Regions from separate parts of the Homo sapiens genome. Here region 2 is linked to region 1. Evidence: fine-mapped QTL for protein levels in blood plasma. Region 1 holds a variant in brackets. A gene starts in the other region. All regions are shown on their reverse strands.

Region 1 (8,328 bases):
GGCCAGGTTATTCTGGGGTACCCTCTGGCAGGCACTGCCTTTCAGTCCACTGCCACTGAGATAGGGTTTTTTTTTTTTTAATTTTTTTTGAGACCGAGTCTCCCTCTGTTGCCCAGGCTGGAGTGCAGTGGTGTGATCTCGGCTCACTGCAACCTCTGCCTCCTGGGTTCAAGTGATTCTTGTGCCTCAGTCTCCCAAGTAGCTGGGATTACAGGCGTGCACCACCACACCCGGCTATTTTTTGTATTTTTAGTAGAGATGGGGTTTCACCACGTTGGTCTCGAACTCCTGGCCTCAAGCGATCTGCCTGCCTTGGCCTCCCAAAGTGCTGGGATTACAGGTGTGAGCCACCACGCCTGGCTGAGACAGGCATTTTGTTAACATCTGATGAATCTAGGGGTGGACTCAGACTGCCTCCCCTCCCCTAACCCAGAATGAGGAGCTCTCTCTATCACACCAAGGACATTATAGTGGCCAGCGGGCAGGGGTTCTGGGCAACTGGGGCTTCCTGCAGGAAGGTGGCAGATGTGCCCAGGTCCCTCCTTATGAAAGGGCACTGGCCTTGTCAGACTGAGTTTAGGGGACTCTATGGGCATAGGCGAGGGGGGCCAGGACCCAGTGTCTCCCTGTGCCGGGTGGGTAGGGGTTGAGGGGGAGGGTACCTGAGGGTAGAGGGAGATCCCAGTGGGCAGTCCAGATGGCCAACAGATGTTCCAGACAGGCTGGGTTCCTTGCAGACAGGGTGCTTGCTGGATTTAGGGGTGCCCTGTCACAGTGATATCCCAGGATAACAGAAAGGGGGTCCCTGCCAGGAAGGGATGGGAGAGGGGTACCTCACAGTGTATGAGGATCCCTGTTGGGCAGGAAAGTCCCAACGTGAAGGGAGGTCCTGGAGAGGAGGGGGTGTCCCTGCTGGGCAGGAAGATCCCATAGTGAGGGGAGGGTTCTCTGATAGGCAAGGGATCCCGGGGTGGTGGTTCGGGAGGGGAGGGGAGCCCCTGCTAGGTCCAGGAGCCCAGGTGGGGGTGGGGTGGGGTGGGGGCGGGGAGCTGTAGAGTCTGACTTGCGTTCGCGGCCCGCCCTGTCTTCCGCAGGGGAGAAGCCGCACCAGTGCGCCGTGTGCTGGCGATCCTTCTCTCTACGCGACTACCTGCTCAAACACATGGTCACGCACACCGGCGTGCGCGCCTTCCAGTGCGCCGTCTGCGCCAAGCGCTTCACGCAGAAGAGCTCGCTCAACGTGCACATGCGCACTCACCGGCCCGAGCGCGCGCCCTGCCCCGCCTGCGGCAAGGTCTTCTCGCACCGCGCGCTGCTGGAGCGCCACCTGGCGGCGCACCCTGCGCCCTGATGGCGCTGGGGCCTGGCCTCGCCCACGGTGGATCCGGGGCCTCCCGCACAGTCGGCCACGCCCGCTGCGGGACCCGTGGTTCCCGCCACTAGACCACGCTCCCTCCTGAGCGCAGGTCCTCTCTCTCCCTTCACCCTTTCTCCATACCAGGGCCTAAGTCCGCCTTACTCCTCTCCTCCATGTACTTGAACCCTCCAGGTGGTGCCGGGCTGGGGCTGGGGCTGGTTAGACCACTTCTGAGAACTGGACTATTTCCTGCGTAAACCGGGCGCTCAGGCGCTTGGACCCGGCCCAAGATTTGACTCCGGTTCTCACCCCGCCCTCTCCTGGGGTGGTGGTGGGGGCTGGGGGGCCGCTTGCCTGCCCCAGGGTCAGGCTGGGCAAGGTCCCTAGCTCTCTACCCAAGCTGTTACTCCCTCATGGGGCGCCTAAGGAGACTCAAGTGGACCCATCATATATGGGGGCTGGGCCTCGGGACTCTCGCTCTAATAAAGGACTGTAGGCCATGGGGCCTAAACCACGAAGCTGTGAGCACCTGGATCAGTGCGTGCCTTGCCCTCATAGACAAGATGTGAGTGTCAGGGTTCAGCGTCCCTGTTCTTGGGTGGCATCCATGCGGCCCACAGGCTGTCCTGGGCAGGAACAGGATGGTCCACTTTGCCATCTAGGACCTCTATTCTGTAGGGGCTAAGGTGGGCTGCATATATAACCAGCACTTGGTTCTCTTGGATCCCTCAGTCCTGTGGGGAGTAGGATAGGCAGGCCACATCTGAGGTGGGTCTCCGAGAGGGAGGCCACGTGAAAGCCCCATCATACTCCTGGTTGCTGCTGTCCACGACCTTTAAGGCCCCTCCCATAGATCTTCCAGTCAGGCTCTAAGGGTCTTTTGGACTTAAGACTTCCCCTCCCCGACCTTGATGGACATGGCTGAGCACCTTACTTGTGGGGAGCCCAGGGGGATCTTTGGGGCCAGGTTGCACTGAGGGTATATAAGCCCCCATATATCTGCCCTTGGTGCTGGGGGCAAAGTTCAGGGAGGGCTCCGATGGCCGTGTTGGGGGCAGGAAACAGTGAGGGGTGGGATCCTGGGGCTGACTGCTGGGCGGTTGGGGACACCACCCCTACTGGCCAGCCAGTGTCCCAGGCCCCTGCATCCAGCGGAGAGAGCAGCCACTCTTTGCCCCTCTCCTCTTCAGCACAATAGTGGCTCCTAGCCTAGGTGCCCTGCCATAAGGATTTGGAGCTGGTGGAGTGGGGTATGGCCCCAGGCCATACCCCAGCCTGACCTGCCAGGCTCCTAGGCCAATGGCAGCTCCTCTGGGTTCACCTTCTGAGACTGCTTCCTCAAGGTGAGAGGCCAGGGCTTTCATGATCCAACTGTGTGCATCATGGGCTGACTTCAGTCTCCTGAACCCCAGGACTCCATCGTCGTCAAAGCCAGAGGTGGAGCAGAGAGTCAGAGCAAGCACATGGGTGGGGGGCAGAGCTGGGTTTGAATCCAGGCGATGCCAGTGTTCCTGTATTTACTGAGCACTTGCTGTATGCCTGGCAGGAGGGTACGATTCCTCGGATCATGGGACAAGGGGCTTAGCCTGGCTGAGCCCCTCTCCTCAGGGTTTCAGTGGGTGTCACAGGAGGACCTCCCAATGAGGTCCACCTTGCTGTCCTGTTGCTTTTCTGTTTGGCCTGATTGGAGTGTTCCCAAGGGCAGGGATTTCTGTGCTCTGAGTGTCTGGTACCCAGCAGGGATGGGAGGGGAGGCAAGGGAGTTAGATGCCAGCCCTGGAGGGTGGATGGGGCAAGCAGGACAGCAGGAAGGAGGCTAGTGGTGCCCAAGGGGCAGAGACCTGGGAACCCAGAGGCCAGTGATGGAAAGGGTTAGCGCCAGGCAGAGAGGGGCTGGACCCACACACAAGACCAGGCAGAGCAAACAAACGTAGAGGAGAAGGGCTGGGGGCAAAGTCCTGGGGAGAGGACCAGCCACTGTCAGCAGTGCCAGGGCCACCACCCCTGGGGAGGAGCCATTGGGCTACTCTTGAGGGGCCAGAGGTGAGCCTGAACACTCCACAGCTGCTGCTCCTAGGGAGGAGCTGGTACCATGGGTGTCAGGCAACAGTTGGCCTTGCTGCTGCTGCTGCTGCTCCTGCTCTGGGGCCTGGGGCAGCCAGTGTGGCCAGTCGCTGTGGCCTTGACCCTGCGCTGGCTCCTGGGGGATCCCACATGTTGCGTGCTACTTGGGCTGGCCATGTTAGCA[C/T]GGCCCTGGCTCGGCCCCTGGGTGCCCCATGGGCTGAGCCTGGCAGCTGCGGCCCTGGCACTAACCCTCCTGCCAGCACGGCTGCCCCCAGGACTACGCTGGCTGCCGGCTGATGTGATCTTCTTGGCCAAGATCCTCCACCTGGGCCTGAAGATCAGGGGATGCTTGAGCCGGCAGCCGCCTGACACCTTTGTAGATGCCTTCGAGCGGCGAGCACGAGCGCAGCCTGGCAGGGCACTCTTGGTGTGGACGGGGCCTGGGGCCGGCTCAGTCACCTTTGGTGAGCTGGATGCCCGGGCCTGCCAGGCGGCATGGGCCCTGAAGGCTGAGCTGGGTGACCCTGCGAGCCTGTGTGCCGGGGAGCCTACTGCCCTCCTTGTGCTGGCTTCCCAGGCCGTTCCAGCCCTGTGTATGTGGCTGGGGCTGGCCAAGCTGGGCTGCCCAACAGCCTGGATCAACCCGCATGGCCGGGGGATGCCCCTGGCGCACTCTGTGCTGAGCTCTGGGGCCCGGGTGCTGGTGGTGGACCCAGGTGAGGGCCTTGGAGCCAGTGGAGAATGGAAGGGGGCAAGGGCAGGGACTATAGGACAGGGGTTCTGCTGGGACTGGCAGAGGCCCTTGGTCCCCACCTGCCTACTTTCACAGGCAATTATAATCAAGACTTATGAGCAGAAAGTAGTTCTCAGGTCATCAGAGTTTAATTTTCCCACAATTTGACCAAAAATACTAATGATGGGATTCTTTACCAAACAACATGGATGCTTTTCTCTACTAGCTGCTCCTCTGCCTGCATCTGTGGGTCTCAGATCCCGCCTCGCAACCTCAAAGGTGAGCCTTGCCTCTGTTTCTCCTCTGACCCATCTCTGCAGACCTCCGGGAGAGCCTGGAGGAGATCCTTCCCAAGCTGCAGGCTGAGAACATCCGCTGCTTCTACCTCAGCCATACCTCCCCTACACCAGGGGTGGGGGCTCTGGGGGCTGCCCTGGATGCAGCGCCCTCCCACCCAGTGCCTGCTGACCTGCGTGCTGGGATCACATGGAGAAGCCCTGCCCTCTTCATCTATACCTCGGGGACCACTGGTGAGGGTGCCCATTAGCCCTAGCACCAGCCTCTGAACTCTCAGGCTGACCTGACCCCACACTTGACTTGTGACTCAGTGTTGACCTCTGAAACCACTTTACCCTCTGATTTTGACATTTGTTTTTTGTTTGGCTGTTTTTTTTTTCGAGGCAGAGTCTCGCTCTGTCGCCTAGGCTGGACTGCAGTGGTGCAATCTCGGCTCACTGCAACCTCCACCTCCTGGGTTCAAGCAATTCTCTTGCCTCAGCCTCCTGAGTAGCTGGGATTACAGGCACACACCACTATGCCCAGCTAATTTTTGTATTTTTGGTAGAGACAGGGTTTCCCCAAGTTAGCCAGGCTGGTCTCTAACCCCTGACCTCAGGGGACCTGCCCAACTCAGCCTCTCAAAATGCTGGGATTACAGGCGTGAGCCACTGCTCCCAGACTTGATTTTGATATTTGGCCTGAACTCTGACCCCCAATGTAATTTGAGAGGTCAATGCCAGAATTCTTCCTGTGTCCAGTAAACAGCCACTGAAACCTTTGATCTTGACATATTACTTTCAGTCCAAATTCAGCCTGTGAACCCAACCACAAATCCCTATACTTGACTGTTCTCTGAGAGCCTCAAACCCCAATGTAGGCCTGGCTGTTGGAGATCTATCCCTCTGGTCAGGCCCCTCTCTGTGCTGTCATGTCACCACCCTGCCCTTGCCATGCCTTCATCCCAAGGCCTCCCGAAGCCAGCCATCCTCACGCATGAGCGGGTACTGCAGATGAGCAAGATGCTGTCCTTATCTGGGGCCACAGCTGATGATGTGGTTTACACGGTCCTGCCTCTGTACCACGTGATGGGACTTGTCGTTGGGATCCTCGGCTGCTTAGATCTCGGTAAGCCCACTTCTGAGGATCCCTCCAGTCTACAGGACCACGGGAGTAAGTGTCGGCGTGGGGCTGTCAAGGCAAAAAGACACCATAGGTTACCCAGCACCCTGTGTTCTCACTTTTGAGAAGGGACACCCACCAATGACTACCAGGGCCGCATGGACAGAAGCTTGGACACCCACACAGTCCCTGATGGCCATGCTTTGGTCAGGAGGTGACAAGACCTGATACGAGTGATGGTCACAGGCATCCAAGGAAGGTGTGGTGCTCAGGAGATGATGGGGATGCTGGCCCAGATTTGTGACATGGCCCCAAGGGCAGCTGGAGTAGGAGTGCTCTCAAGCACTCCACAGGGCTGTCTCTCTGGACTCTTGATTCAGAGTCTAGATGGGGACCTCTCCATAGCTTGTTCTTTTTGTTTTCTCTCTTTTTTTTTTATTTTAATTTTTATTTATTTATTTTTTTTCGAGACAGAGTCTTGCTTTGTCACCCAGGCTGGAGTGCAGAGGCATGATCTTGGCTCACTGCAACCTCTGCCTCCTGGGTTCAAGCAATTCTCCTGCCTCATCCTCCTGAGTAACTGGGATTACAGGCGCCCACCACCACGCCCGGCTAATTTTTGTAGTTTTAGTAGAGACGGGATTTCACCATCTTGGCCAGGCTGGTCTTGAACTCCTGACCTCGTGATCCACCTGCCTTGGCCTCCCAAAGTGCTGAGATTACAGGTGTGAGCCACCGCACCTGGCTATTTTCTCTCTCTCTCTCTTTTTTTTTTTGAGACAGAGTCTCGCTCTGTCGCCCAGGCTGGAGTGCGGTGGCATGATCTCGGCTCACTGCAAGCTCCGCCTTCCAGGTTCAAGCGATTTTCCTGCCTCAGCCTCCTGAGTAGCTGGGATTACAGGCACGCACCACCACGCCCAGCTAATTTTTGTATTTTTACTAGAGACTAGGTTTCACCATGTTGGTCAGGCTGGTCTCAAACTCCTGACCTTGTGATCTGCCCACATTTGCGGGCATTTGCCTCCCAAAGCGCTGGGATTACAGGTGTGACCCACCACGCCCGGCCTTTTTGTGTTTTCCAGCTATTATCATGGCCATGTGTGGTTGCTCATGCCTATAATCCCTGCACTTTGGGTGCCAAGGCAGGAGGATCACTTGAGTCCAGGAGTTCAACACCAGCGTGGGCAACATAGTAAGAGGCCATCTGTTAAAAAAAAATTTTAAAAAGCCACGCATGGTGGTATCGGGGGAACCTGCCCCTAATATTTCAATGTAGGTTCTTTTTTTTTTTTTTTTTGAGATGGAGTCTCGCTCTGTCGCCCAGGCTGGAGTGCAGTGGTGCGATCTCAGCTCACTGCAAGCTCTGCCTCCTGGGTTCATGCCATTCTCCTGCCTCAGCCTCCCCAGTAGCTGGGACTACAGGCGCCTGCCACCGCGCCCGGCTAATTTTTTGTATTTTTAGTAGAGATGGGGTTTCACATTTAGCCAGGATGGTCTCAATCTCCTGACCTCATGATCCTCCCACCTCGGCCTCCCAAAGTGCTGGGATTACAGGTGTGAGCCACTGTGCCCGGCCTCGATGTAGGTTCTTTCTATTTTCCGTAAGTGCTGGCCAGCTGAGAAATAAAGAGAAAGAGTACAAAGAGAGGAATTTGACAGCTGGGCCTCCGGGGGTGACATCACATATCGGTAGGACCATGATGCCCACCTGAGCTCAAAGCCAGCAAGTTTTATTAAGGATTTCAGAAGGGAAGGGGGTGTAAGAACCGAGAATAGGTACAAAGATCACATGCTTCAAAGGGCAAAAAACGGAACTACTGATCAGGGTCCAACAAAGATCACAAGGCAAAGGGCAAAAGCAGAACTGATAAGGGTCTATGTTCAGTGGTGCACATATTGTCTTGATAAACATCTTAAACAACAGAAAACAGGGTTCAAGAGCAGAGAACTGGTCTGACCTCAAATTTACCAGGGCGGGGTTTTTCCCCACCCTAGTAAGCCTGAGGGTACTGCAGGAGACCAGGGTGCATCTCAGTCCTTATCTCAACTGCATAGGACAGACATTCCCAGAGCGGCCATTTATAGACCTCCCCCCAGGAATGAATTCCTTTCCCAGGGTCTTAATGTTAATATTCCTTGCTAGGAAAATAATTTAGCAATATCTCTCCTACTTGCACGTCCACTTATAGGCTCTCTGCAAGAAGAAAAATATGGCTCTTTTTGCCCAGCCCCGCAGGCAGTCAGACCTTAGGGTTGTCTTCCCTTGTTCCCTAAAATCACTCTCATTCTGTTCTTTTTCAATGTGCGCTGATTTCACATTGTTCAAACACACATTTTACAATCAATTTGTACAGTTAACACAATTATCACAGGGTCCTGAGGTGACGTACATCCTCAGCTTATGAAGATAACAGGATTAAGAGATGAAAGTAAGACAGGCGTAAGAAATTATAAGAGTATTATTTGGGAAGTGATAAATGTCCATGTTATCTTCACAATTTATGTTCCTCTGCCGTGGCTCCAGCCGGTCCGTCTGTTAGGGGTCCCTGACTTCCCGCAACAGTGGTGAGCACTTGTGAGCGATTCTTCTGCCTCAGCATCCCGAGTAGCTGTTATTACAGGTGCCCACCACTATGCCCGGCTAATTTTTGAATTTTTAGTATAGGTGGGGTCTCACCATGTTGGCCAGGCTGGTCTCCAACACCTGACCTCATGATCCACCCACCTCAGCCTCCCAAAGTGCTGGGATTACAGGCATGAGCCACCGCGCCCGGCC
Region 2 (8,328 bases), not on the chromosome of region 1:
TATTTAAATTCAGATATACCTAAATATTTAATACTTAAATAAGTATAAATTTAAAATAATAAATTTTCTAAATAATAGAAGTCATTTCTTAAAATAATACAAATATCTGGTCCTCTAGCATTTCTCTCTTCTGAGCAGCACTAGACTCATTAATGCCATGTAGTCGTACCCAGGTTTTAAACAGTGGTTTCTATGGCTTAGGACAATGTTTCCTAATGTTCTAAAATCCATATCCTCTTTTTAAAAAACAGCTTTATTGCAATATAATCATAATCTCTTTTGATTTGTTGCTCTTTTTCTCTATCGCCACCTCTTTTTCTTGGCAAGATTCACTGATAGAAACAATCTTTTTAAATTAAAAATGTAGCGATTGTAAACATGATCAAGATATAAAGTTTGAAAATTTTAAACATTACAGAGGGTCGTACAGTAAAAGCAAAGTCTCCTTCCATACTCACTGACCTCCCCACTCTCCACGACCCCAATCTTCTGCTCTCAAAGTAACTACTCTTCAGTTTATGTCTAGATTGTTTATATATATATATATATATACACACACACACACACACACACACACATATGTGGATAATATGTAATTCCCCTAATTTTATACCTTAGAATTATACCACATGTATATTCTGCATCCCCCTTAATGGCATTTTGATTATCAATGGTGTGGGACTCCCTAGATCTATATATAGTATTGTGTTACTTACTGTTTAAACGTATAGCATTGAATTTGGTCTACATTAGCTCTTTGAAAGCCCCACTATACATATAAGGAAAGAAGGGTCCAGAGGTGGTGATAAGTGATTTCAAAAGATTAAAGGGCCAACTACAAATGGAATTGGATCTTGAATTTAGGCCTTTTGAATTTATCTGTCCTGCTCTTTCAAAGTCAACAAACCCCTTTTACAATACTGATGTACCTGTGGCCTCTTGACCAAGTCAATTTGGCCTATTGCCAAGAGCAGATTTAGATGGTGACACTCGATACAGTGGCCTCCAAAGTTTGGAATTCTTTAATGCTAATTTACCATGCTGGGGATTTGAATTACTGATTATGGTATTCGAATAAAAACTAACCACTTCTAGGGTTTAAAGTTAATGTATACACACACACACACACACACACACACACATGCACACACACACACAGAGACTCCTCTGCCTAAAGTGAAGAATTTTTAAACAAATTATAGCTAACACAGAACTTCAATCAATTGCCCAAGAATACGCTTCTTTCTTTACCCCCTTCTTCATGCTATGCTGCAAACACAGTGATAAGGAACATGAGCTCTAGAGTCACCTGATCTGAGTCCAGATGGAGGCACTGACACTTAGTTATGTAACCTTAAGTGAATTATTACTTTACCTCTCTAAGCCTCAAAGCCTCACTTTCCTTCTTTTTAGTCCCATCAAACTTGCAGCAAGCAATTCACTTTACTTCTTTGTAGGTAAGGTTAATAAGAAGTAATGTGACAAGGCATGCAAACGCTGAGTGAAATAATAATATGACTATTATTATTTCATTATTCATTCCATTTATTTTTTATTCTTCTAATTTTTCTTTCTCCCAAGTCCATATTTTACATCCATCCATCTAATCATATTTATTGAGTCATTATTAAGCACAAAGTTCTATGGATGGCACGGGAAAACCCAGTGATCAATGCGATGGAGTCCTTCCCACAGGAGCCTACAATCTCAAGCAAAGTTCAGAATTAATTAGTGGTTAATCTTTACTGACTTCATAAAACGTATCAAGCACAGTGCAGAGCACTTGACACTCATTATCACATTTAATTTTAAGCTACCTATGAGGTGGACGTTCTTTTACAGAAGAGGAATCTGTAGCTCAATAAAGCTGAGTACTTTATCTAGGCTGGATCCAAACCCAGGCAGCCTGACTCCCAAACCCTGCATGCATGTCTACATCACACCCCAGGCCCCTCAGCTCTGTGAGCCCTCCTGACTTCGATTCCTCCTCTGCTTGCACTCTTTTAACATTAGTCATCTTAACAAGAACTCTAATCTATACAATTCAAGACGTTACACTGTCCTTTTAATACAACCCTTCTTCCATAGATTTTCTAGAGGCAGCATGGTAGAGGCAGCTCAGTTAAGGGCCCAGATTTTGGAGTCTGCTGCTTGACAGCTGCCTGACCTACAGCAAGCCACATAAGCAATCTGTGCTGCAGGTCTCACCTGTAAAATTGGGGTAAGGCTACCCACACTCCAGAGATTGTGTTGATAATTAAATGCGTTAACATAGGTGTCAGCACAGGCAAAGCACACAGTCAGTACTGCATAAGCGGTGGGCTTCATTATTCATCCTGTAATTACGTATTCATACTAGAATCATGTATCCCATAGGTCAGGGACCACCTTTTCTTTCCTTAATACCCCCAGGATTGGCAAATCTTGCTCTCTCAACAAATAGTTTACTCGGTGGAACCTAACAGAACTAATATTTCTTTCTGTCCGTAAATAAAAATAGATCATGCTTGAATGTGCTACTTTGCCCGAACTCCCCAAGTCTTCCCGCATCTTCAGTTCCTCCCCCTCCAACCTGGTGTTCATCAGGAGAGGGGAAAGAGCATTTCTTGCCTGGCAGGAACTCAAGACCTAGAAGAAAGAGGGCCTACCCTGCCAAGGAAATGACCTTCCCCTTCCTCGCCTCTGCTCCTCTTCCCGTTTCCTGTCTTTTCCTTCTTTTCTCCTGGTGTTTCCTTCTCCCGTTAACTATGGGGACAGACGCAGCTATTCACAAGTCCGTCTGGGCAGCACACTCCGAGGTAAGGCACGAAGGTCAGGAGACAGGTTCCCGTGCCCCAAATCCTGGAGAAGATGAGTTAAAGCTCTTCGCTTCGATTGCCTTCGCCCTTCCCGCGTCTCGGGAGCAATTCAGTGTCGCCTCACGTCTGGCCTTGCAGAAGTCCGGAGTTCCGGCTCTGAACTGGAGCTCCCCGCCATTCCCGGGCCCTCCGGTTTCTCCCTCAGGCCATCTGAGGAATTGAGGTAGGATTTCGCGGGTGTTAGGAGCAAACTCCCACCACAACTCGGTCCCGGGCTCCCTCTCCGTTGAGCCTTGACCTCTGCCCAAAAAACAAGGAATCGTGGGCGTGAAGGCGGCCTTGAACCCGGGCGGCGGGGCTCGGCGGGACTCGTCAGCGCCCTGCTGCGGCACCCGGGCCGCTCAGGTAAGTAGGAGGCGTGTGCGGGCGGGGCCGAGCGGGCCCCAATCCGTACGCGAGGCAGGAACCGCCCGCCGCGCCCCCGAGAGCTCTCGGCGCCGCGCAGTCGCCGCTGGGCACCCCGAGACCATGGGGAAGCTCGTGGCGCTGGTCCTGCTGGGGGTCGGCCTGTCCTTAGTCGGGGAGATGTTCCTGGCGTTTAGGTGAGTGGCATCTTGACAGGGCGTCTTCGACTCTCTTTCTCTCCTCTTCCAAGTGAGGTCAGGGGCTGCCTGGCGCCCCCTTCCTAGCGGGTAGGAAAGAGCAGCTTTGGAACCTCACTCCTCCATCTCACCCAGCAAACCGCCCCTTGAGACTCGCTTATGGGGAAAGTGAGCTACTTGCGTTTCCAAAGACTGCCGAGCCGAATTAGTCCCATTTATTTTTTGAAGGTTATGATCCCCCACTTTGCTTTCTGAAGGTCATGACCCCCTTTTACTTTCTGAACGTGATGACCCCTTTCCCAGCTCGCCCTCAACATTCTGCTTGGGAAAAAAGGACGTCCATTGGAAACGCCGGACTTGGGAGAGAGGATCAGGCTACCAGTTGGATGTTTACGGCTGACTGAGACATTGCCCAGGTCTGGCTAACCATGCAGAAGTACTGGGTTATGGAACCTATCCTAGATTTAAAGAGCTGGCCAGACAGCAGGGCAAACCAGCTGAAACCTGCAGGCGGTAACTGGCATTTTGTAGGCATTTGACCTTTTGAAGTGGAAGATACAATGGTGATAGCCAGCCTAGAAATGTCTCAGGAAAAGTCAATACTGGGCTAGAAAGAAGAACCTTTAAGTGATAATACACATTCATGAGTGGATCGAAAGCCTCTGCTTGCTTTCAGTTGTCTTTGAGTGTTTATGTATTTCTCTTAGTTGAAGCTGGTCTTCTTAGAGGATCACGTCTAGAATCTGTTGAGGTGCCTGGTGCCTATTAGTAATACTTCCAGTTTGAGAGTTTTATTGTTACATTTGCTCCCAGTGCAACCACATGGAGAATCATAAAATAATAGTAATAATAATAAAGTAGATCTAAGGGTATTTTTTTAAATAAATGACTGTAAGATAAGTATTGAGTCTTTCTGAATATACTTTAATAAAAATTTTAAATTATCCCTGATATTAGAAGAATGTGGAAACATTCCTTTTCACTCTGGAAACAAGAAAATTGTGTTGAAAAATAAATCGGCCAATTGTTTAAATTGTGGTTGGTTTAATGAATTTACATACTTGCGGAGTAAGTCAGCATAAAATTTAAAAATTAAAGCAAAAGTGATAGAGTTTGACTATTAGGAGACCCTGTTGAATTTTGGGAAAGCAGTTTGGAAGGAAAAGTTCAAAGGGCAAGACTGTAGGGGATTAAGTGCAGATTTATAACAGACGATACTTTAGAAAATTAGGGCTATTTCGTGCATTTAAATTAATAATATTGTTCAATTACTCATACTATTAAATAGTGTCTTTTATTTGGGCAGCAGAATTTTCCATGTTGAATCATATTATACAGTTTTTCAGCAATAACTGGGTAAGGTTAGCTGATATAGGTAAAATACCCACATAATGTCTACATTATGTAAATAAACATGAAAGGAAGTACCTACTTACTTGTTATGTCATTCATAAATTATGATAAAGATAGTTAACCAACACGAAGATGATTGAAGTCCACATTTAAACATACATTTTGAATGCTGTGCCTTGACTTCCAGGGTTGGGTTTTATCTTCTACAGAGAAAGGGTGAATGCCTCTCGAGAAGTGGAGCCAGTAGAACCTGAAAACTGCCACCTTATTGAGGAACTTGGTATGTATGTGACAGTACCAAGAGGAGCCAGCACAGCTTCTTGGTCGTCATCCACCTGACTGAGCCCTACCAGCTCATTTAATTACCTGTCACTACTTAAGCCCTCCCAGTGGGACATCTGCCCCGTCCACTCTGCCCCATGCAAGGTCTTCAGGGGTGTACTAAATGACATTCTTTGTGGGTTTTTCTCAGCACATTTCCTTACTGACATCTCTCCACATTACCTAAAGAATGTCATTGACCACTCCCTGGTTTTCCCCTCACTGAATGCTTCTCCTTTCCCATCTGTGGTATTTCACTCTCCTCCTTGTCCTCTGTTACCTTTCCTTTTTTTGCTTCTTTCTTCTTTCCTTCCTCCCTCCCTTTCCTTATTGTCATTCCTGGCTTCAAGTGTTATTTTTTTTCAAATAATATGACTCAGCCCCTCCCCTCAAGAACCTCACAGCAGGCTGGGCGCAGTGGCTCACACCTGTAATCCCAGCACTTGGGAGGCCGAGGGGGGCGGATCATGAGGTCAGGAGATCGAGACCATCCTGGCCAACATGGTGAAACCCCATCTCTACTAAAAATATAACAATTAGCCGGGCATGTTGGCGGCGTGTGCCTGTAATCCCAGCTACTCGGAAGGCTGAGGCAGGAGAATCACTTGAACCAGGGAGTCATCGGAGGTTGCAGTGAGCTGAGATCGCGCCACTGTACTCCAGCCTGGCGACAGAGCGAGACTTTGTCTTAAAAAAAATAATAAACGAAGGAACCTCACAGCCTACCTACCTTCTTTTAAAAAAATTCATAAAAAATCCATGGCCCAGTCCCTAACCTTTCAAACTGCAGCCCTTCTTTTTTAGTCAGTTAAAGGGCAGCTCCAGCTCAAACTCTCCCTAAGCTGAAATCTATTTTACATTTCTGTCGTTTTCTCCCTCATCCTCCCACCCACAACCAGCTCTGCTTCTAGACTTTTCCTATGTATGGTACCCCCATTCTCAAAAGATTCAGTTCAAAATCCAGGAACCATTGTTCCCCGCTTGTCCCTCATGCTTCTACGTGAGACATGGGCTAATCTCACCTACTAGTTAATGCCACACCTGCTTATTTGGGCTCCACAGCTCCAATTCTTCCTGACATTGCTAACAGAAAAATAAAATAAAATCAGGCTAGATTGTGTTCCCTGTTCTGGGAATATGTTCTTTCACCTTCTCACCTTTGCTTATGAAATTCCCTCCAAACTTACTGATTCCTCTGTCTCTGCTTACTAAAATCAGCTGCAAAATTCATCTCCTTCCTCTGAACTCTCACAGCACTCTGAAGCTCCGATTCACTTATGACACCTGCCACATGCCTTGTATTATAGCTAGCAGTGTTCTCTCTTTCACTATCAGATTGTAAACTCCCTAGGGCCAAGAACTGTGACTTATTTATTAGAATGTGATGAGATAGCTTATTTTGGGATATGATTTTCTATTTTATTGCTATATTTAAAAATACAGAAAAAGTACCCTTTTGATTTGAGTTTTCTGCCTTTTCTTGCCTCTCAATTTCTAAAAAATAAAGTAATCTGAACCTTGCACTCCCTAGTCTTAGAGGTGGTTTGTGCTAGCAGCTGGAAAGCAGAAGAAACCAAAGAAAACGCCTTTCCTGAATTGTTTTTAAAAACCTGAGCCCCTTCAAGGGATTCTGTTGGAGAAGGGATATGAATATGTGGATATCTTTGAATAATGGGGATCCTTACCCCACTGGCTGACAGCATTCTGGGAGAGGAGCAGGACCTCAGAAGGAATGGTTGCAAGGTATCTTTAGGGACGCTGGACCCTGTGTTCCAGCTAAGGTAAAGACCTTGTGTCAATGCATTACATGGAAGTAGCAGAATTGTCTAAATTAAAGGGACCAGTAACTTTGGCAATGAATAATTCGATGATACGTAGTGTAGAATGAATGCCAGATGGCCTTTCCAAAACATTCTGCTTAGGTTTAGAACCCACCACTTAAAATGATTTCATAACCCTAACAGACAAACCCAGTAATGACTCAGATTGGATTTTCCATCAACTTAGTGGAATAGGATATCAGAGTGATTTAATTTGATTTTAAAAATAAGGAAATGTGACATTTACTCATTTGTTTACTGTTTTGTGGTGTAGTAGTATTCATATTCACTATACAAATAACTGTCAAAATATATAAGCCTGCAAATAATCAAGAGGTATAATTAGACTAGATGATTGGTAGGGTCTAGTCTGACTCGAATTGTATCACTCAACTAGATTTGAGAAGGTAAAATTACAGTTAATATTGTGAGTCTTAGGTCAATGTTCTGATTTGCCAAATATTTTGAAGAAAATGGCTTAAATAGTTGGAAGCAGGCTGGGAGCAGAAGAAAGAAATGCCATGTTACTTCTCATGTCTATTGGCATATGTTTGGTGAACTAAACAAGTTAGAATGATGATGGGTCATGTGTCAGTAGGACAATACTGATATATATGTTTTGAAAAAGCTGCTTTATCAAAGGCCTGGTGACTATGAGCAGCCTGTTGAGTCCTTTACAAACATCTACATCATCCTCATAACCAATTTGTAAAGTGGATGCTGCTATCTATGCTTTGCAGATTAGGAAATTGACATACAGAAGAATTAAGTTGCTTGCCCAATGGTCCGGAACTAGGGGGTGATGGGCTTAGCTTATGAGCCAAGATCGTTTCCTTCTATGCCTTTTTACTCTCTGTTGTGTAACACTAACTTTCTGATCTACTGACAACACATTTTTTATTTTGGAAGCTTCAGGAAAGTATTGCAACAGTGGAAAACAGAAAATCTGAGATGCAAACAGCTGAAATATTACTAGATACAGGTTAATCAAAACAAGGCAGTCTAGATATTTAAATTAAGATAATGGATAAGATAATACTCACAAATCACAACTGGTTGAGGAGTAGAGGCTTTACAAAGCCCTGAAAAGCTGCTGAAGGATTTTAGGTAGGGTATAGTAGGCTGTAACAGAGCTGGAGAAAAATTCTTATTTGTGTTTTCAAGACCCAGACTTTTGAGGTTTATTTTATTGGTAGAAGAAACTCTTATTTTGTTTTCCTTCTCCAGCATTTTTTTCTGGGAAGAAAAGTTGAAAGGTGAAATATATCTTTCTCTGGAAATCATATCTCATAGATCTTTTTGTATTACGTTCATCTTTTTATCCAAGGCTTTTGAGGGTCAAGGATTGTTTTAACCAGGACGTTATCTGGCTGCCCTTGACATCTAATCAAAGCTGCACTTGAAATATGAATACTTCAGTAGGACTTTCACTAG

Alleles and levels. Positions count from the first base shown, and alleles are read on the strand shown. Strength reflects both the effect of a copy and how common the allele is.
For the plasma level of the protein whose gene starts at base 3,302 in region 2, T is the high allele of the variant in region 1 and C is the other (moderate association).

Evidence for each region. A credible set is the group of variants that fine-mapping cannot tell apart. PIP is the posterior inclusion probability: the model's chance that the variant is causal. Protein levels are from antibody-based Olink assays in UK Biobank. Linkage for the fine-mapping came from a reference panel and not from the study's own genotypes, which makes the PIPs less certain.
Region 2: PON3 starts here. The variant in region 1 is the best candidate, but not a certain one, in a credible set for the plasma level of the PON3 protein (UK Biobank, PIP 0.57).

The regions. Positions count from the first base shown.
Region 1 is chr19:58,507,077-58,515,404 of GRCh38, reverse strand. SLC27A5 (solute carrier family 27 member 5) reads left to right here and starts at 3,413. Exons shown (of 10, transcript NM_012254.3): 1 at 3,413-4,137; 2 at 4,475-4,684; 3 at 5,400-5,558. The coding sequence starts at 3,450. It overlaps ZBTB45 (zinc finger and BTB domain containing 45), which reads left to right. Exons shown (of 3, transcript NM_001316979.2): 3 at 1,095-1,875. The coding sequence ends at 1,351. It overlaps LOC105372485 (a long non-coding RNA gene), which reads right to left. Exons shown (of 2, transcript XR_001754024.2): 2 at 4,282-5,621. RefSeq lists silencers at 982-1,031, 1,142-1,341, 1,362-1,411 and an enhancer at 3,196-3,710. The variant C/T (reference allele first, on the strand shown) is at 3,606.
Region 2 is chr7:95,391,349-95,399,676 of GRCh38, reverse strand. PON3 (paraoxonase 3) reads left to right here and starts at 3,302. Exons shown (of 9, transcript NM_000940.3): 1 at 3,302-3,400; 2 at 4,963-5,033. The coding sequence starts at 3,327. It overlaps LOC107986822 (a long non-coding RNA gene), which reads right to left and starts at 3,205. Exons shown (of 2, transcript XR_007060439.1): 1 at 2,649-3,205.